Regions from separate parts of the Homo sapiens genome. Here region 1 is linked to region 2. The links come from fine-mapping of genetic effects on gene expression. A gene starts in region 2. The other region holds a variant in brackets. All regions are shown on one strand. Distances are from middle to middle.

Region 1 (11,385 bases), 250 kb before region 2:
GGGGAAAAGACCAAAGGAAGCTTAGAGATGAATATTCTAGCTTTAAAGAATAACCTGGAGACTTAGAAAGTATGGATGATAGCAATTGAATTCATGATATGGAGTTAGAAGTGGGAGAAGTGGAAGGATATACTACCGACTTTATGCTTTGGATATTTAGACCACTTATTTTTTCCTTCAACTTTTATTAAGTTTGTGGGTACATGTGCAGCATGTGCAGGTTTATTACATAGGTAAACGTGGGCCCTGGTGGCTTGCTGCACAGATCAACCCAATACCTACATATTAAGCCCAGCATCTTTTAGCTGTACTTCCTGATGCTCTCCTTCCCCCAACTCCACCCCTGATAGGCCCCAGTGTGTGTTATTCCCACCCATGTGTCCAAGTATTCTCATTGTTCAGCTCTCACTTAGAAGTGAGAACATGCGGTGTTTGGTTTTCTATTCCTGTGTTAGTTTGCTAAAGATAATGGCTTTCAAGCTCCACCAATGTCCCCACAAAGGACATGATCTCTTTCCTTTTTATGGCTGCACAGTATTCCATGGTGTACATGTACCACATTTTCTTTATCCAGTCTATCATTGATGGGCATTTGGGTTGATTCCATGTCTTTGTTATTGTGAATAATGCTGCATTGAACATATGTGTGCATATATTTTTATACTAGAATGACTTATGTTCCTTTGGGCGTATGCCCAGTAATGGGGTTGCTGGGTCAAATGGTATTTCTGTCTCTAGATCTTTGAGGAACCACCACACTACCTTCCACAATGGTCTAATTTACACTCCCATCAACAGTGTAAAAGCAATCCTTTTTCTCTGCAACCTTGCCAGCATCTGTTGTTTCTGGACTTTTTAATAATTGCCATTCTATTGGGCTGCTGCCATTACTTACAATGGCAAAAACCGCAATTACGTTTGCACCAACATAATAACTGATGTGAGATGGTCTCTCACTGTGGTTTTGATTTGCATTTCTCTAATGATCAATGAATCTGAGCCTTTTATCATATGTTTGTTGACTGCATAAATGTATTATTTTGAGAAGTGTCTGTTCATGTCTTTTGCCCAATTTTTAATGGGGTTGTTTGGTTTTGTGTGTGTGTGTGTTTGTGTGAATTTGTTTAAGTTCCTTTTAGACTCTGGATATTAGACCTTTGTCAGATGGATAGATTGAAAAAATTTTCTCCCATTCTGTAGGTTGTTTGTTCAATCTGATGATAGCTTCTTTTGCTATGCAGAACTTCTTTAGTTTAATTAGATCCCATTTTTCGATTTTTGCTTTTGTTGCAATTGCTTTTAGGGTATTCATCATGAAATTTTTGCCTGTGTCTACATCCTAAATGGTATCACCTAGATTTTTTTGTGGGGTTTTTGTAGTTTGGGATTTTAAATTTAAGTCTTTAATCCATTCTGAGTTAATTTTTGTATAAGGTGTAAGGAAGGGGTCCAGTTTCAATTTTCTGCATATGGCTAGCCAGTTCTCCTAGCACCATTTAGTAAATAAGGAATTCTTTCCCCATTGCTTGTTTTTGTCAGGTTTGTCGAAGATAAGACAGTTGTAGGTGTGTGGTCTTATTTATGAGTTCTCTATTCTGTTCCACTGGTCTATGTGTCTGTTTATGTACCAGTACTATGCTGTTTTAGTTGTTGTAGCCTTGTAGTATAGTTTGAAGTCAGGTAGCGTGATGCCTCTAGCTTTGTTCTTTTTACTTAGGATTGTCTTGGCTATTTGGGCTCTTTTTTGGTTTCACATGAATTTTAAAATAGTTTATTCTAATTCTGTGAAGAATGTCGTTTGTAGTTTCATGGGAATGGCATTGACTATAGACCATTTTTATCTAAGATTCCTTTAGTCAGTTTACTAGTGTGAATTGTGCATGGAAAATATTCCTGTCTATATCTTAATAATTCCTTGCCTCCTAAAATACCCTGCAACTTCCATCTACCGCCTAGGTTCAGATTCAGATACGGTGGTAGTTGTCAAAAGGAGTGGGGAGTATTGATTTGATATACCCACTTGCCATCCCAGTGCAGTCATCTGGCAATGCCTGGAGATATTTTTGGTTGTAACACTAGGGAATGCTACTGCATCTGGTGGATAGAGGCCAGGGATGCTACCAAACGTGCTAAAATGCACAGGACAACTCCCACTCCTCACCCTAACGAAGAATCATCTGGCTCAAAATGTCAATCAGGTTTGAGAAACCCTGAAAGGGAGTGTTATAAAATACTTATGTTTATTTGTTATTTGCAAGGCTGTGTTTTCCAGTACATTGTCTTATTTTAACCCATGACATCGCAGTGATCTAGATTGTCCCCATTTTGCAGATTTGGAAACTGAAGTTGAGAGTGTTCAGAGTTGCCCGATTTTCCATGACTCTTAAGGACAGGTGGCAGTCTTAAGGTCTTGAATTTTAAGTGTAAGATTTTATGCAGAATTATCTTTCCTTTATCTCAGTATGTAACTTCTGAAATGTATATCCACATAAATTACACCATATTAATGTGATGAGTTTTTATCCAAATATACATTCCTAGTAACGCATTGTTTAATTGTAGGGTTCATGTTGAAATGAAGAGCTATATACCATCTTTAAATCTTTATTTTTTTTCCTCTCCAGTATTTTCTTACCTCCTTTTTTTCTTATTCAAGTGAATGGTGCTTAATTAACTCAACTGCTCTAAACATATACCTGAGAGACATCCTAAATATCTTGCTTATTTCTACTACTCTTTCCCCTACAATCAATTATCACTGAGGCTTGCCAATTCTATCTCCTAAACATGGCTTACATTGATTACTTCCCCTCTATTCTAATCACTACTGCCCTGGTTCAGGTCTTTATCACCTTCTCTTTGCAACACTCATGCATTCATTGTTTCATTCAATTACTCCTGTTTTTATGTATCCATTTATTCAAAAATATCCCAAACAATTAGTGAGTATACATCCTATGTTCTAGGTTGCTGAGTGGGATAAAAACAAATACAATTGTTATCTAAAAGAACATTTAGTACAATGGAAAGAAAAAATAAAGGTCCTGGCAAATAACAATTATATATGTGCTCATAATGACAAAATAAACTGTTCCAGCTACTAGGAAAGCACATAGGAACACCAAAATTAGACTGAAAGCCAGGCCAACCTATCTAGAAGAAGCAGTGACTGAAATGAAACCTACAGAATCATTAGGCAAGGCAAAGGATAGGGGGTTGTAGATTTTATTACTAGTTCTAATACTTCTTTCACTGCACTCACACTTTTACCATATGACCTTGCAGTCCCTCCCACAAAAGATGGAGGACATATTTCCCATCTTTTTTACTCAGAATAGACACATGTCATTTGGTTTGACCAATTATTAGGCAGAAGTGACTGTTGTCTAGTTTTGTGACTGGGCCTTAAGGGATCTTGCATATTTTCACATTCCCTCTTGCATCTCTACCATCACCACGGAAATAACATGCCCAGGATGGCCCACAAGCTCCAAGGGGAAGATGAGAGACACTTCGAGCAAAGCCCAACTTAAATAAGCTGACTAACCAGCTGAATCCCAGCTGTGTACATAGACACAACTCACATTTTGTGGTTGTTCGATAAGCATCAATTGCAAAGCAGAAATTTTTTGTGATGGAGGTGGCATTTTAGGCAAACAGAAGAACATGTGTACAGGATTAAATAACACTTGGAAAATTACACTCTTTTCAGATAGATTGGGGCATAAAGTTGGGGCATAATGTGAGATTAGCTAGAAATGATATAAAACAAGTAATATGGGATAGATTATGCACAGCATTGTATGTCACACAAAAGATTTAAGAGTTCTTCTTGAAGAATGTAGGCAAATAAGCAGAGAGCATTAAGCAAGAGAAGATGTAAAGAGACATTCATTTTAGAAAAGTCAAGCTGACTGACTATAGTAGGGAAATGGGTTGGAGAATGTGATTGAAATTTAGAATGGCCAGTTAGGAGCTGGAAATGTTGAAAAAAAAAAAAGCCTAAACTAAGGTAGTGGCAATGGGTGTAGAAAGGAGGTAAGAAATTCAAAGAGTGCTATGGAATATATACATATTAATGTTGCTGATCACTTTTTTTGTACGCTCTGGGGATGTGACAAATATGGGTTAGGGGGATCTCAGTCTGTACTTTGATTTAGGCAACTGAATATACATAACCTTAGTAGTACCATTCACTGAGTTTTGTTTTGTGCTCTTTTTGGGAGGAGATGGGGAAGAAAAATAATCCATATGAAGATATGTTGCGTTTCAATGCCTATGAGATACTAAGAAGTAGGTATTCAGTAGAAAGTTGAAAACTTGGGTCTGCTACTTAGAAATAAGGCCTGTTTTAAACTAGATATGTGTCAGATGATTTAGAGAAACACAAGGAAAAAGTCAAGAAAAGATAGCATCAAAATTTAAGGCAGCAGTTGGGACACAAAGGGAGATAAAGTGAATAGGCTTATAAGGAACTGTCAGAAGGAGGAAAAAACAAGATAACGTGGAACAACAGGATGAAAATAGAAGACACACGTATAGTGATTATTATGTAGCAGGCACTATTCTAAACACTTTACA[T/C]ACATACATAGATTTAATCATTACAACAGTCTTGTCAAGTAGATATAATGATTATCACCATATTACAGACTGGAAAGTGAGGCACAGAGAGGCTACATAATGTTCTCAAGGTCTCACAGCTAATTGATGGTAGACAGGGGATTCAGAGCCTGAGTTGAGGCTCTTAGTCGCCATCTGGACAAGAGAAGAAACAAGCCTGAGAGAAAGGAGTGGCTATCAGCATCAGTTCCTGCTTGTCGAATAAAGATCTGAAAGAAGCTCATTGGTTTCAGCAACAAGGAAACATTAATAACATTTACGAAAATAGTTTTGATGGGGAGATAAAGATAGAAAGACAGTCTTTGGTGTTGCCAACTGATATGGTTTGGCTCTTTGTCCCCATCCAAATCTCACATTGAATTGTAATCCCCAGTGTTTGAGATGGGACATGGTGGGAGGTGATTGGATCATGTGGGTGGTTTCTAATGGTTTAGCACCATCCCCCTAGTGCTGTCTCACTGTAGAATTCTCAGGAGATCTAGTTGTTTAAAAGTTTGTAGCATCTCTCTAGGCCAGGTACAGTGGCTCACGCCTGTAATCCCAGCACTTTGGGAGGCCGAGGCAGGTGGATCACGAGGTCAGGAGATTTAGACCATCCTGGTCAACATGGTGAAATCCCATTTCTACTAAAAATACAAAAATTAGCCAGGTGTGGTGGTGCACACCTGTAGTCCCAGCTACTCAGGAAGCTGAGGCAGAAGAATCGCTTAAACCTGGGAGGCAGAAGTTGCAGTGAGCCGAGATCATGCCACGGCACTCCAGTCTGGATGACAGAGCAAGACTCCGTCTCAAAAAAAAAAAAAAAAAGAAGGAAGGAAGAAAGAAAGAAGAAAGAAAAGAAGGAAAGAAAGAAAGAAAGAAAGAAAGAAAGAAAGAAAGAAAGAAAGAAAGAAAGAAAGAAAGAAAACAATAGTGTAGTACCTCTCTCCCACCCACTCACTCTCTCTTGCTGGCCATGTGAATATGTGCCTGCTTCCCCTTTGCCTTCTCCCATGATTGTAAGTTTCCTGAGGCCTCCCCAGCTATGCCTCTTGTATAGCATGCAGAAGAACTGTGAGTCAATTTAAACTCTTTTCTTTATAAATTTCCCAGTCTCAGGTAATTGTTTATAGCAGTGCAAGAACAGACTGAGATTTTCCATGGCAACTTTCCTGACTTGGGGTCCCCCAGCTCTTCTGTTCAGGTTGGCATTTTCCAGAACCAGGGGCTGAGACCATATTTAGGATGCAAGATGTTTATCAGGGATCCACTGTGAAAGGAAGATGGAAGAACTAGATAGGGGAAAAAAAGAGGTCAAACCGTGATGCAGACCTGAAAATTTTCAGTCAATCTGATAGGAAGCTATGGAGTGATGATTTCTATTAAAGTTGCGCTATACTGGGTTAAAATGGCTTGGTTTTATAACCACTCTTGGCTGTCACCAGTTGTGAGCTGCTCCAGGAATGGTGTGACCATGAATGAAGGAAGCTGTTGTAGCTGAAGCAGACCTTTAAAAAGCAAACAGCTGAAAACCATCTGCTGACCAAACCACCTGCGGAAATCCTTTGGGCGGAATGGGATGAAGCCGTTTCATTTCTACCACACCTTGCAACGATTGTTTAAGCTTCTATTTCCTTATATTAAAATTTAATACTTGAATAATTTAAAGTGGTTTTTTTATTTGATTGATTAATAGACATAAGCAACTTTTTGATTATATTTTAATTATTTTCTTGATATCTGCCTCTTTAATAGATCGGTAGCATCCTGAGGTTATAGAACCTATATTTTCTTATTTTTTGCATCATCTAACAGAACATATGACTAATAATAAAATGTGTTAGTAATTGAATAAGAGGGGCATATGAAATAGGTCTTAAATCATTATTAAAGTTTCCCAGTCAGAGCACAGGAATAAAGGCTAAATAGCTTTTGTTCTAATAACTGCAGTCGCGAAACTATTTTCTTTTGTGTTTTTAAGACATATAAAGGAATAGTTTACATTTATTCACTGCCCTGTAAACGCTTAATCATCTCCCCAAGCCGACATCTCTTCAAAAACAATTGAGATAATAAGTAAAATACATTTTTTTATTTTCAGATAATTTGTTTAAATGTAAATATTTCAGTATGTAAACCATTTTCAATGGTTATTTTTGAAAAATCTGAATTGTATTCATAAATTTCATGTTTAAATTCAAACACAGAAAAATAAAGATAACATTTTTTAGAAGTTTTTAAAATACAAAAACATTTTCTATTTGTAATTAATAAGATGTTATACATTTTTCTGTCTATGTTTTTGTGGGTTTTACTTTATGCTAGGCAATATTTCTATTCATCTTCTATAAAAGGGATAATTTATATATTTTTATAAAAATTAAATTACGTAGCATATTTAAAGTACCTTAGGTATAATGGATTCTAAAGTATGTCTCACTGTAGTATGCCTTAATTATCGTTTTATTTGGCAAAGGAATTGCCATTCCATCTCCATATTTTTAGCACCAAACATAGTATTTGACCCAGAGTATGCACTAAATAAATGTTAGTTTATTTAAAGTGAATAAAAAATCAATAAAATAGGTTCAAAATTATGATAGGAATTTTAAACAATTAGAAATCAAAGAAAAAACTAGTCTCAGGTATATAATGGCAGCATTTAAGGCTTATATTGCATTGTTTTCTTCAAATATTAGCTCACAAATGATGTTTGTCCATCACCCAAACAGATGTTCATTTTAAAGTCTGAATGATGACTCAGAAAGAGAATATGAGATTACTTACTTTTCCCTTTCAGTTGAGCATATAAAGGTGTTCACAAAAGGTGTTCATAATATAAAGGTGAACACAAAAAGTGTTCATTTGTGGTAGATGGAGAGCTGGAAATGTAATCTCCAAATACTAAATTCACAAAATCACTATTTCCTAGTTAAAAACATTAATTGTGAGGTTACTATTGTTTCTATCATCCATTCTTCTAGAATTGTAAAGAAAAAAAAATAAAATAGATTCCATTACATAAATCAAGTTATCTTTATGCTTTTATATTCAGCAAATACTTATTTGATGGCTCTCCAATGTGTGAAACAAAGTTCTTTGTTAATGTGATTAATCCTATAAATCAATAAAGCTACTTTCATAAAGGATCTATTGCTATAATAAAATATAGCCAGCTCCTAAAGCTGTTCATTTTACAGTTTACCCAACTGCTTTCCTAAAATACTAACTCCCCTTATCATCCAAAGCCTGCCCAGCCTCCACTGCCAATGTCAAGTTTTGTTTAGCACAAGGTGACTAGGGTGTTGAAAATTAGGATTTTAGTTCTCAAGTCACCTCTAACTTAAGCTACATTATCTGCTGGAGCTTGAAGTCTGTTTGTATATAAGAGGATTGTCTACATATGTGATTTCTAAGTTCTGTTCCTACTTTAAGAGTTGCATGGAACTGCAGAGTGTTTTTTCTTAACTTACCGTTTCTTTGCTGAATTTCTACAGCATTTCATACCCACTGCCATATAATCTGGTGCTTGGAAAACAATATATTTAACTTTGTATGGCTTTCTCTTTGTTTATTGCCTGTACACATGTCTTATTTTCTTTTCTTTTTTTTTCTTTCTTTTTTTTTTTTTTTTTTTTTGAGATGTAGTCTCGCTCTGTCACCCAGGCTGGAGTGCAGTGACGCTATCTCGGCTTACTGCAAGCTCTACCTCCCGGGTTCACGCCATTCTCCTGCCTCAGCCTCCCGAGTAGCTGGGACTACAGGCGCCCGCCACCACGCCCAGCCAATTTTTTGTATTTTTAGTAGAGACGGGGTTTCACTGTGTTAGCTAGGATGGTCTCGATCTCCTGACCTTGTGATCCGCCCACCTTGGCCTCCCAAAGTCCTGGGATTACAGGCGTGAGCCACCGCGCCTGGCCATACGCGTCTTATTTTCTAAATCAAATTGCAAATTCTTCAAGGAAAGTCTTGTACTTAATCTCCACTAGTCTCTCTCTCACTTACAACAATATTTAAGACATAGTTGATACTTCTGGGTTTATTTAATAAAGCCATTGTTCAAAAATTTAAACTTAGAAAAAATTAGATGACAACTATTAATATTATTGTAGAAAGGGGCCCGTTGCTTTACCAAATAAGTAATATTTGAGAAGTGTACAGAATTGTCAAAACTTTTCATTGCTTTCTCCCAGTAAACACATGTGACCAGAGGAGCTTCCTAAACATGGAGTGTCAGAAACACATCTCTGCCTTTTCTCTTTAGGAGCTACCTTCTTTCACAACTACACTCAAAGAAAGAAATAATAAAATCTGGCTTACCTGTTCAGAAGTTGCCAACCCCTGCCAGAAGAAAAAATAAAAATAAAAATAAAAAACAATTGGAGGAAATGGCAGTTTGATGGGAAATGCTAGGTGAGTGTTCTCTTTTTTATTTCGCCTCTCCTTCCCCTATCAATCTGGAATAGTTCTTCTCATTCTGAATATGTCTTTCTCCCCTGTCTTTTCTCCCATCCTTGCACAAGGCTCTGGAAATGATTTTTAATATGTAATCTGAATGGTGCTCTGGAGCTTATGGTCTTATTCAATCCTCCTAAGAAGCTTGTGAAATAAATATAGAATTTAGCATCTGAATGTCACACAAATGAAATTGAACTTTAGAGTGACGGAGCTGAGATCAGAATCCAGGCTGGGTGTAGTGGCTCATGCCTGTATTCCCGGACTTTGGGAAGCCAAGGTTGGCTGGAGGATCACTTGAGCCCAGGAATTCAAGGTAGAAGCCTGCAGTGAGCTATGATTGTGCCACTGCATGCCAGCGCAAGACTAGTCTCTAAAAAATAAAAAAAATAAAAAACTATAAAATTAAAAATTCACACCTCCCAAAGAAAATTTCTTGAAGTAACTGTGTAAAACCAGAAGCCAAATAATATTAACATAACCTTTCTTTCCTATTTACTTCTTTTGAATTGTCTTTAACTTTTTGTTCTTAAATATGTTTCCATTATACTCATGTTGTTTAAATACAAGATAATCAATAAAAGATACGAAATATTCTGAAGGTATAAGACATAAGACATAGAGCAATCTTTTTAAAAAGTCATTATCCTCTATTATGTGAATGAAACAAACCTGTATTATATTATAATATGAACAATAACTTGATAAAGCATATTTGTAAATTTCATTGATATAAGCGTTTTCAAACTTGATAAAATTTAAAGGGAAATTATTTTGAAACGTTGCATCAGTTTTACACTCTTGCCTCTATTTTGATAGATTTTCAGGGGTATTGTCCCAGAGCTAGTACAAGGGAATGGTGAACTCTCATTTCTTTCACAGTCCTGACCTGGACTTTTTAGAGCATCATAGTTTCCTTTTAAACACTCTACAAGTACTCAAGTACAACCAATTTAATTTTGAAGAATATATGCCAAATATTTTCCATAATGTGTGATGCTTTCCTTACAGCCAGTTGAACTGTGATCTTCAAACTGATTAACTCTGCTTTGTTTTCTTTTTTCTGCTTGTGAGAGCCTGCAGGTAGGTACTGATCCATTCCAGTTAATATCTAATGATGATGAGCTGAAGACAAAATCCCAGCTAACAGCTCCCATCTGTGGTTATGCATAAAATATCTGCTTCTGGCAAGTGACACCATATGCAAATCAAAAATGTGAATACTGCAGAAGTTACATAATATATTCACATATGCCTAAAATAGAAATTTCCCCACTTTTACCATCTTCCATTTCTATAATGCTCAGGAACCCTATAAATAGAGTTAGAAATATATTTTTATTTATATTTTCTAGTATGCTTGTTTTGGCTCTCACATTAAAGAATACTTTACACAACAAATTTAATTTAATGGATATTAATTTTTTAAAATTGGCATTGCTTTTCATGTCATTATAATATTCTTAAGGCTAGTGGCTATATGTAATTATTATAGTATTCCCCTAGGACCTAATACTTAACATATACTTGCTGCCTTAAGGCCTTCTCCGTATTTGCTGCCAGCAAAACCATCCATCCATATGATTCACTGTTTTCAGACTTAAAAATGAATGTAAGTAATATATTCCATGTGTAGATTTTAAACTCTTATTATTTCAGAAAGAAAATTGTCTAGTCTCTCTCTCTCTTTGCAGTTAGTTTCTATTTGGTATTAGGTTGTTTACATTTTAGTGGCTGTATATCTGTAAAATTAGTCTAAGATTCGTCTTAAGGGAGCATCATTCTTAGGGAGCCTTGTCCTTGAGAATAAATTATGAAATTAATAATTAACTTGACATTGCATGAGCAATTCTTGATGGAATCCAGTGTTCAAAAAGAATGTTAGCATCTTGGAAGGAGTCACTGGGGCAACCTTTTAGAGACAAAGTGCTCTTCCTGAATGTATAAGACTTTGCCACTGTGTGTCAGACATCAGAAAGCCGGACATTTATGGCTTAATAATACAGCTCTGTTATCAAATAGTAAGTATGCCCTCTTACTTGGAAACTTTTTATTCACTTGGAAACCAGGTAAACTCCAGAAGTTAAAGAAGAAAAGTGATATCATTTTAGGAATATAAGGATACATCTTATAACTTCTATAGCGCTCCATTTTTTTAAGTCAAGTGGGACATAGGAAGATAAGTTTTAATTATCTTTTGATTGGACAGTACAAATTTTTTTTATCATCTCCAGGAAAATTATATGTGTTCCTCATATTTCATTAACTCACAAAGTACACACTTTAACTTTAAACCACTCAGGCTAATCCTTCTCTCACTTGAGGAATTTA
Region 2 (11,385 bases):
AAACGTTTAACCCTACTAGAGGTTATATGAAACTGGCAGAATTAACAAACATCATATGCATAAAATATATTGTAATATTTTCTGACAGCAATACCTTTATTCAGCATGGCCAGAAAACCAATTTTCATCATGTAGAGATGTTCAAATTCAATAGATTATTTTGCAGACATTATTACTTTATATGTGAATCAATGTTTCCTGCTTGATTTTTTCATTTAGAAAGCCTTATCTGTGAATCATGGTTTTTCTCTTCTACCAAGCTCTGCCAAAGATTAATGGCAGAGTTATCCTGGTAGGAAATGGTGGATTTCAATTTCCCATTGGAATCTATACTGCTTAAGTTGAAGAATGTCCCTGAAGACCACATAAGTGCATAAGCAGTCCAAATGCATCAGATCAAACTTCATCCAGAAGATAAATGAAAAATAAAGAGAGGAGAAAGAGAAAGTGTGGAAATATCAAATGAGGGGCAGGATTGTACCCAAGAAAAAAAAAGCTCTGTAACACTATTTTTCTTCTAAAAAAAAAAAAAAAAAAAAAGATGTTAGAATCTCCCATCATATTTCTTTTTCTCTTTAATCTTCTTCACAGTCCTCCAGAGCACTGTGATGGCCACACACCATAACAGAGATAACAGAGGCAGATGATGATCATGACAGCAGAGTAACATGGTGAGTCCCAAGTAGTTGATGTCAGGGAAGACCATGAGACTATATGGGGCCAGGCACAGTGGCTCACGCCTGTAATCCCAGTACTTTGGGAGGCCAAGGCAGATGGATCAGTTGAGGTCAGGATTTTAAGAACAGCCTGGTTAACATGGTGAAACCCCATCTCTACTAAAAACATAAAAATTAGCCTGGTGGTGGTGGTGGCCTGAGGTGGGAGAATCGCCTGAGCCTGGGGGGTGGAGGTTGCAATGAGCCGAGATTGCACCACCTCACTCCAGTCTGGGCGACAGAGTGAGACCCTGTCAAAAAAAAAAAGAAAGAAAGAAAGAAAGAAAACGAAAGAAAGAAAGAAGGAAAGAAAAAGAAAGAAAGAAAGAGAGAAAGAAGAAAGAAAGAAAGGAAAGAAAGAAAGAAAGAAAGAAAGAAAGAAAGAAAGAAAGAAAGAAAGAGAAAGAAAGAAAGAAAGAAAGAAAGAAAGAAAGAAAGAAAGAAAGAAAGAAAGAAAGGGAAAGAAAGGAAGGAAGAAAGAAAAAGAGAGAGAGAGGGAGGGAGGGAGGGACAATATGGGCTTCTTTGTGGCTATGGAGTTTGCCAACTGTGCCACTTTTGAACTCATTTCTTCCTCCCTCATCTAGATCTTGTCAAAAAATAAATGTAGGACACAAATCTAAGCCATAAAGGAGAAAATAATAAGAGATATATATGAGGAGGTAACACAGCAGGATGAGTTGGCCCGGAATTTTTAGTTTGAAGACTTACATATTAAATTCTGTGACCTTAATTGTTCCTTATCTGGATACACCAAAGAAAGGCTGGATATTGGATATATGATTGAGCTAGAATTATTCTTTGTTTGAAGTAGAGGGATATTTTGTGGACATTTTTTTTTTTTCCAAGACAGAATCTGGCTGTCTTGCCCAGGCTTGAGTACAGTGGCACGATCTCGGCTCACTGCAACCTCTATCTCCCAGGTTCAAGCAATTCTCCTGGCTCAGCCTCCTGAGTAGCTGGGATTACAGAAGTGCGACACCACGCCTGGCTAATTTTTGTATTTTTAGTAGAGATGGGGTTTCATCATGTTGGCCAGGCTGGTCTCAACTCCTGACCTGGTGATCCGCCCACTTCGGCCTCCCAAAATGCTGGATTTACAGGAATGAGCCACAGCGCCCGGGCGACATTTTGTTTTTTTAATGGAGCCAGATGCAATATCTGTGTTGTGCAGCCCAGGTATTTAAACACTTGAGCACACATCAAACACAGGAACAGCTTTTTACTTACTCTCAAGTTGATTGACCTCCAGGTAATAGTTTTCAAGGTTTTCATTGACAGTTGGTATGTTTTTAAGCTTGTTATAGGACAGATCCAGCTCAACCAGGGATGACACATTGAAAGAATTTCCAGGTATTCCACTATCAGCCAGTTCGTTGTGAGATAAACGCAGATACTGCAATGCATTAAAACGCTTGAAATACTCATCAGGGATGTTGCTGATCTTATTGTTGTCTAAGTAGAGAGTTAGAAGAGAGACAGGGAGACCAGAAGGCAGTCTGGCTATCTGATTGAAGCTCAAGTCAAGGTATTCGAGTGATTTAAGACCTTTAAAAGCAGCTGAAACAGCATCCTCTTTCAGCCGATTGTGCTGGAGATGGATGAAGGTCAGGTTTACCAATCCTTCAAAAGAGCCCAGCTTTGTGATCTTGTTATGAGTAAGCTGCAGATCCTCCAGAGATTTGGGAAGTGGGCCCACAGACTCTGTCAGGTTGTTGTGGTTTATATGCAGCTTCTTCAGTTGTTTCAATTTAGAGAAAACTCTCCCTTTTATCTTGGAGTTTTCTAGAAGGTTGTGATCTAGAATGAGCCACTGCAGATCAGTTACATTCTCAAAGGCCTTTTCATCAATATGGTCAATCTGGTTATTCCTAAGGTAAAGATACTTGATTCCAGGAGGCACCATTGGTACACTTTTCAATTTCAGCTCATCACAGTACATGGCACTTGGGTAGCTTTCAGGGCAGTTACATTCTGGTGCACAGTTTGGTGATGATTGCCCATAAATTGATAGGGGAAAATCATAATCATAGTACTGGCCACTGGTACCACCAATCAATGCCAGGAAGAGAGTAAATGCACTTAGACTCATTTTTGGCAAATGGTTTGAATCCTAAATAAAGATGAAACATTTATTAATTAAAAAAATATATACTTTCAAGAAAAAGACATTCAATTTGCAACATTAAATTCATTAGAAAATGTGCATTTTGTTATTTTATAGCTATTTTTAGTGCATCTAACAGCGTCTTTTAAATTTTTATTTAGGTATGAGGACAAAGGTGTATGTTTACAACTATGTAGTGAGCAGCTTTCAGGTTAGATTGCGTACACGTGCGCCCCCTTCTGGGCGAGCCCAGCCTAATTGTTCCAGTCAATCTCCAGGCTCTTCCTTAATGAAATGCCTTCCTGTAAGAGGTTTCTGGGTGGTGTTCATTGACCACCGAATTAGACTACTGCTTCAGATCATCTCTCAAAAAAAGAGAATGAGAAGACAGTTTTTAACTGTATACTCTACCCTACCATTCGACATCATTAAAATGACTCATGAAGAAGATCCTTACGGGAATATGGGCAACCTGAGGTTTTGCTTGTATGTGGGAGGGAAATGGAAGGCACATTCCTTTAAAAGTGTCTGGTTACTGTTGGTTCTGAGGAAGGAGAACAGAATTCTTGGTGCTGGTGTGCATGCATACTAGTTCATGTTGTGCTTAACATTCTACACTTTTTAAAGCACATTGCAAAACTGTGTTCTGGAACTAATATTTCATAAATTAGCTATTTACTAAACAAAATATTAGTAATATTTAATAATTGCTAATGTTTATCAGGAAAATGTCACACATTCTGAAGGTTTCTCTTTCTGGAAAGAGATTCAACAGGTAGAGAAAGATAGTATTTTCCAAGTTTTCAATTAGAGTTATAGTCTCTCTCAATTACTCACAAGTTCTCTACTTTCTTCATGCCAAAATCGAAGATGCCATGGTTTGCATATCTGGCTTTTAGTGGCCTCACAGAATGGAGGTGGGAGAGAGGTGTGATGTTTTTAAAGTTTGGATTTAATACTGGTGTTAGAACTATCTAGTAAATTATTCAATTGAGAATATGAATTTGAAATAATGTGTAACAGTTATCTTCTCATAGGAACATGTTTCTAAGGTGAGGCTCAAAAAAGTACATTTCAATGTCTTAGGTGCAGCAATTTAGATATGGGAAAATTGGAATATAAGAGTTAGACTTTTATAGAGTGAACAGTTGTGGCTGAGGCAAAGTTGGTAGCCCTGGGAGATAAATCATTAATGTGACGAAAGATCTACATTCTAATAGATAACTGAGAATATTATATCTTTCTATGAAAGTATGATTACAAGCTTTTGGATCAAAGTAGTTTGGGATAAGCAGGATCTTTGGGGTTAGAAACTGAAAACGTCTTTTATTTGTTTTAATTTGAAATTGTAAGGCACTTTATTTCAGATCAGATGGAACGTTATAAAACAGCTTTTAGAAATACTTTGATTGCTGACATAAGGTAACATGTAGCCAGATTCTCAGTAAATTACTCTCTAAGATTTTAATGGGGGCATTTAATTTTGCTGACAGAACTTGGCCATAATAATAATTGCATAGCACTAAAAAGAACGTGATGACATATTCCCAGAGTTATTTTAAGTTATAGAATGTAAATACTGTAAAGATTTGTCTTGCTTTATTAATAAGCTATTTTAAATTTACTATACACCAAAATATGGCAACTATAATGTGAGTATTAAATAGTAATGAAAAATGCTTCCATATTTTTTGGCAAAGTAAAAACAAGGATGCTGAATTGAATGAGAGTTTGCAACCATATAATGACTCCACTATGAGGCAAAATCACACTGTACTACCCTCAGTTTTTTCAAATACCTGTGGCTATAGAGAAAATGCTGTTTTCAAAAACGAAATCATTTCCCAGAACTTTTTAAAAAACTCGTTCCTTAAGGCATATATCCAAGAAACAAATTTTTTAAATTAACAAAACAGAAATAAATAATCCATAAGAGTTCCTAAATCTTTTAGCTCATGTTTTATAACATAGAACGTTTATTGTAAATTATAACAAATTGTCACAATATGCTTATTAAAAGATATTTTGAATGCTGATTAAAATGACTTTTCTTTGCTCCAGTATTAGGGTCCAATACTAACATATATAACTAACTAGCATACATAACAAACATATTAATTTCTATATTTTTTCACTGTGTCTACTTTAACTATTTTCTCATTCTAACCTTGAAACTTTTTATAACTTCTCTTGCCAAGCAATACAGCATATACTGTATAAAATCTCAAATCTATAAATCATGGAAAACATATTAACAAAATGTGAAACTAAATGCTCAGAACTGTGGATTTGCTGTTGAATAGCAATTGGCAAAATTGCTCTGGAATTTTTCCTGTTCCTGTTACAAAAAACGCTGTCCCAAACAGTTAACATCCCCAGTGCAATAGTTAAAACAGCACTTACCTTACTGTCTTGACACTGCTTTCGTTAATTCTTAAAGCAGATGCACTATGGACAAGAATCCACCAATATATGCTGTGAACTCTGTCAGGACGGAACTGGCTGCCAGATTCTGAGTGATACAAGAGCTGAAGGGGGGTGGGGAGACCCAGCCCAGTCACGCCAGTCTCTGAATGGAGTTATGTCATTGTGGGGATCTTGTGGTGTGGCATGTGAACACTGCTCTCTAACGAAGTGCAGGTGAACGTGGGGAGAAAGGACAGCCCAGCTCATTCCCTATGGAATGGGAGAGAGATATGTGTTTAACTAGCTCAAATACCATAGCTTTTAACCAAGAATTGAGTCCTGCTTCAAATAAGGAAGCTCACTGTGAGAACATTTTTCTTACAAGCCTCTTTACATCTGTGGCTGTGGCAACAATTAAGTGCAATGTGCTCAGCCAACTATCATGTTTATCTAAAGATCTCAGAAATCATAAGCAGGGCAAATAATTTCAGGAAAACGCAAATGAACAGACTCAGAGGAATTGAATCCCTTTGCCTATCACTTTTGAAATCAATATTGATTTACTTGGACTAACTTAATTTTTTGGCCATGAGGGTAGCTTACATTAGTTTTAAAAATATAAAATATGCTTCATATACACTTGGATACACATGATAAATATCAACATTTCAAGTTTACTTCTAATGCTAAGGAGACTCATTTTATGTTATTCAGGTCTGGAACCAATCAGCAAAGTCTTGCCTGTTTTTTATTTTGTGGATTTCGTTTAGGAATTCACCCAAAACCTTACTTGGGGAGAGCATTCTATAGCTTAATGCCAAAAAACATAAAAGAACAGAGAAAAAAATAAATTTATACTAAAAGTATCACAAGGCAAGAATCTTTCATTGCATGCTAGTAATTTTTTTTCAAAGTTAAAAGTTATTCAAAGTTATAATCTCCCAAAGGCCTGGCTGGATATATCTTTCATTATCAGCTCCTGATGCATGGTTTCAGCAAATGAGAGATGTACTTAAATCCTTGTCTATTTCATTTTGTGATTTTATCAGATATATTTATGAGATTTTTTTCTAAAATGTTCATTTCCTCATGTTTATAAGAACTTTTACACCAATATATTTTAATATAAGTTGTCACATTGTATTTTTGTCTTTAAAAATAACTATATCACATTTTAGCAGTGAGACTTGTGGAAAATTAACTCCATGACTAATACTGCATTTGTCCGAAAAAAAGACTATTAGAATAAATGGCTTATTTTTGTAATAGCAGTGTTCAAAAACAAAAAGTAATCTTCTTGAAAGTAACTAATGGAATTGTAAGATGATTCATAAACATAACATTTTTCCTAATATTATTTTAAGAAAATTATTGATAGGCCTCAGTTTCAACAAAGTAACTGAATAAATTTATAAGGAATTAAGAAAAAAAGACAAATCAATCGAATATAATTAAGTGATCTTGTTATAAGAGGATTCTTAAAACAATGCTATGTATTAATTTTGAGTGTATCAAATTCTATAATCTGAGCTCTTGTTAGAAAAACTCCACCTATCCATTCCTTAAGATTTTTCTTTATAAAGCAATACATGTGTTGTGGTATTTATAACAGACCTCAAATGCATTATATTGGATTTAGCTCATTGTAAAGTCTTGTCAACATATACTTTTTAATAAAATCAGTTCTGTGAAACCAATAATTGAATAATTTTGTGCGTTTCAGAGCATATTTTCAGGGTCCAATAGAAAGAAATGAAATTAACATTTATAGTGGATCTAATATATTCCATGATTTATACTCAGAGTTTTCACATTTCTTCCTTTAAATTTCATACATTAAAATTCCTATGGTATGTTTTACTACTCTATTTTCAGGAGTATAAATGGAGAGTCAGAAAGTCTCATTCATTTGCTAAAAGTCACCTAACAAGTAAATGTAAGAATAAAACCATGAACATCTTCACTCACTGGGAAGAGGGTGAACAGGATGGAGCTGAGACAATGTAGTTCACTCAATCAGCTTAAAATACTTTATAGACAATGTTACTATCAGTTGAGAAAAAGCAGAAATATTAAATAGGCAATAGTTATTTAAAAAGTCAAATGTTAATTAAGCAATAGTTTCTTTCCTTTTACATTACACACTAACATATAACATGCATAGCCACATCCACATCTCAGAACTTTTGGGTAACGTATAAACATTCCATCCTGGCCAATGGTGATTCACATCATTGGTGATAATGAGCATTGGAGGCTAAATGCATTTCATCACAATACAGGTTAAAATGATGGGAGTTCTCATTGTTCACCTCCCACTTATGAGTGAGAACATGGGGAACAATACACACCCGGGCCTGTCAGGGGTTGGTGGGCACGGGGAAGGACAGCATTAGGAAAGATACCTAATGCATGCAGGGCTTAAAACCCAGATGACGGGTCAATAGCGGCAGCAAACCACCATGGCAAATGTGTAACTAAGCAACGAACCTGAACATTCTGCACATGTATCCCGGAACTTAAATTAAAAAGAAAAAAAAAAAAAGATGGAATTGCCCTCTTCAGCCCAGGGACTGGATTCCCTGTTACCTGAGACCAGCAAGGATAATAAAGCATGTTATGACTGTTTCACACACTGTGTTCTGAACCCAGCCCTGGACTTACAGGGGAAAAGAATAAATTAAGTATTCCATCCCAGAGATAACTATCTTTTGGTATATCTTCTTAATGTGTGGGTATAAACATAAACACACAGACAATTTGGTTTTCACATATATCATAACATTATGCTTATAGTGCCAGACCCATTTTCATATAACAGTAAATCATTGATGTTTTTCTATATCATTAAATATCATTCTCTACTGTCATTTTTATTTGCTACATGAAATTCTGTTATATGGATATACCATAATGTAGTTGTTAGTTTTTAATATTGAACACTTGATTTCTCTTAAAATTTGCAAAGCACTATCACATAAAATGAAATTTTAATCTTTAAATTGGTTGTACCTGCTTTGTCTATTCTGCTTATCTCAAAAGATACATTTTAAATGAAAGCATATTTTGAGTAAATGGTTTATGCTTTCAAATCATAGAGTGGAGTGGATTTGAATTTTTTCTCTTCTCACAACAATCTAATTCCCATTCTTAATTTTAGCATCTTACAAGTCATGAAACTATCTTTTATTTACATAGTCCTTATACTCATAGCTGTATGTATTTTCAAACTTACTCTACAATTGCTTTTATTTTTCTTAGTATCTTACATGACAAGTACATTTTTGGAATTATCAATGATATGGTTTATTATATGTTTTTCAGTAATAAGTGTGCATTATAAGAGTAATATATATAAATTGGAACACTATACCAAAACATTAACCAGCATAGCAGTATATAAGGTTAAACATTAAATAACCCCTGGCTTAACTAACTCTCCAATTGCACTTTCTATAAGTAATTGTTGTTTAGACTTTATTAATTCAGATGTTTCAGACATGTCTTATATACACAAGAGAATTTCATTTCTCTTTCCTCTTTTATGGCAGCCTATGAGATAACTCAGACAGTTCAGAACTCAGATAACTTCTTCACTTAGGTAAGTGCACAGTCATAAATTTGCTTTTGGGAGAAATTCCTCTTTTCTCATGATAAGCAATGCTGTATTGAGGAAGTTTTGTGCAAGATAGCTTAAGGAAAATCCCAAAAGTAAGTGGGCTTTCTGGAGAACACAAATTTGTACACATATTTAAAAATTTTATAATTATTACCTAATTACCTCCAAAATGTTGTTCTGCTTATCACTCCCATCAAAGGTAGATGAGAATACACTTTTTCACCAGTCATTCATGAAGTTTGAATATGATCAAGCTTAAAATATCTATGATCTAATTGTTAAAGTTTTATTTCTTAAATAATATCTGGTAGTGCCAGTCTCCCTTCTTTATTCCTTAAGTGTAGGCTTATCAAACCTTAAAGCATCTGACCATGGCTAAACTCCCTGATGCCATTTTCTTTCCTCCTTCTGCCTTACATTCTAGCCATTTTGACCTTTACCCAGGACCTGATATATGAGAAGTCTGTTCCTACTTCAGGTCCTTTACCAGCTGTTCTCTTTGACTGAAGTGCTGTTCCCACAGACTAGCGTTTCTCAAACATTTTGCCTACAGGACTCTATGTACTTAAAATTTGTTGACGTTTTGAGGACCCCAAAGACGTATGTGGAGTCCATCTACCAGTGTGTATCACATTCAAAATTAAAACTGAGAAATATTTTAAAGCATTTAAGTAATTCATTATGATAAAAATAACAAGTCCATGCCATGTTAATATAAATACCATTTTTGTGAAAATATTAACATGTTCCAGAAAAAAACAATGAGAAAAATGGTATTGCCTTATATATTTGCACACCTATTTAATGTGTCTGAAGTTAGCTGGATTTTTATGTCTGTTCCCTTGTTCAATCTGTTAAGATATGTTGCTTTGATTGATGCATATAATGAAAAACTCACCCTACATAAATATTTAATTGAGAAAACAAGCATTATTAGTAGCCTTTTTAGGTAATTTCAACTCAATTTTATTCCATTTAAATTCCAACTCAATTTCAACTCAATTTAATTATCTCAGAAGTAAGCATTGAATTTTACCAGAAGCCACAGGACATCTGACAATGACATTGTTCTGATGGCTAGTAGAAGATCTGCTTGTGTGTTCTGACTTTTTCCAGAATTTTCCATAGTCATGATTTTCAAATACAAATGTGTTTTCAATGACCCAGTTTGTTCTCGGTAACACTACTGTATTCCTATTTATCTTTGTTTATGTCTGCTTTTATTTCTGCAATCTAGTTATTGTCCAATAAACCACTATTTTGTAATCTTTGTAGTCTTGTTTTGGAATAGTATTTTTATTTTTTTCAACTACTCTTCTTTTTGAAGAACAATCAGAACTCATCAAGTGGTAGTTTCTCAAAGGCTAGTTGCAATGTGGTATTTAAAATTACATCAACGAAGGTTTTCTACTATTTCCAAATTCTAATTTTTGCTCGAAAGTTTAAATTTTGCCAACTACTCTCAGTTGTTTTTCTTGAAACGAAAAATAGACTTTATTTTTTGAGAGTGTATTTACCAAATACTCTAATCTGACAAACCACACTTTTAATTAAAAACGGGTTCCAGAAAAAAAGTGGCTAGTTCAACCAGAGTCAGCTGTAGATTTGTCCATTTGTAAGGCAAAAGTACAATCCACAGATATAGTATTAATTCAATCTTCATGTCTTGAGTAAATCTTTATTTTGATTAATTACTGTATCATTGGAAAGTAGCTCGCTGTAATTTATTTTGCTGACTTTTTGTCCAGCAGACATTCAGCAAGGGTTTTGTAGTCTTCAGCGTTTGTGCGTATTTCTCAGACCATGCAATTTGCTTTATCTAGTAAAATGGTCAGTGGCTTTGCAATTTCCAGTTTGAAAGCTATAACAAATAATTTTTGGCTTTTAGAGTCCATTACATCTACAATTAACTATTTAGCTCATTTTTCTGTAAAATCTGAATGATTGGTCTCAAAATGTTGCTAGAATTCAGTTGTTACCATAAAAATATTTAAAATGTTTTGTTGTATAAGACAAAATAAATCAAATTATTAATATATACAATTGAAATGTAAATATTATTTCATTATTTATTAATAATATTTATTAACATTATTTATTGGTTTTCATTATATTTCTGTTGCCTATTTTAATTTTCGCTTACTTTCTTTGGAGAAGGGTGCTCTTTCCCATAATTCAGAGAACTCCTTCATATATGAATTTTGTGCAGTGTAGCTACGGGTTAAGAAAAAAAGTCTTCTATCTCCCTTTTGGAAGATAATGTGGTTTTTTGTTTTGTTTTGTTTTTTTGAGACGGAGTCTTGTTCTGTCGTCCGGGCTGGAGTGCAGTGATGCAATCTCTGCTCACTGCAACCTCAGCCTCCAGGGTTCAAGCAATTCTCCTTAGCCTCCCTAGTAGCTGGGACTACAGATGCCTGCTATCATGCCTGACTAATTTTTGTATTTTTAGTAGAGACCGGGTATCGCCATGTTGGCCAGGCTGGTCTCGAACTCCTGACCTCAGGTGATCCGCCTGCCTCAGCTTCCCAAAGTGCTGG

What was found.
Region 1: its variant is fine-mapped to the expression of LUM in coronary artery (GTEx, PIP above 0.99).

What each region holds. Positions count from the first base shown.
Region 1 is chr12:90,860,946-90,872,330 of GRCh38, forward strand. No RefSeq gene overlaps it. Among named protein-coding and RNA genes, the nearest start is that of LINC00615, 51 kb to the right of the region's middle. The variant T/C (reference allele first, on the strand shown) is at 4,582.
Region 2 is chr12:91,106,172-91,117,556 of GRCh38, forward strand. LUM (lumican) reads right to left here and starts at 5,323. Exons shown (of 3, transcript NM_002345.4): 1 at 5,227-5,323; 2 at 1,947-2,829. The coding sequence starts at 2,808.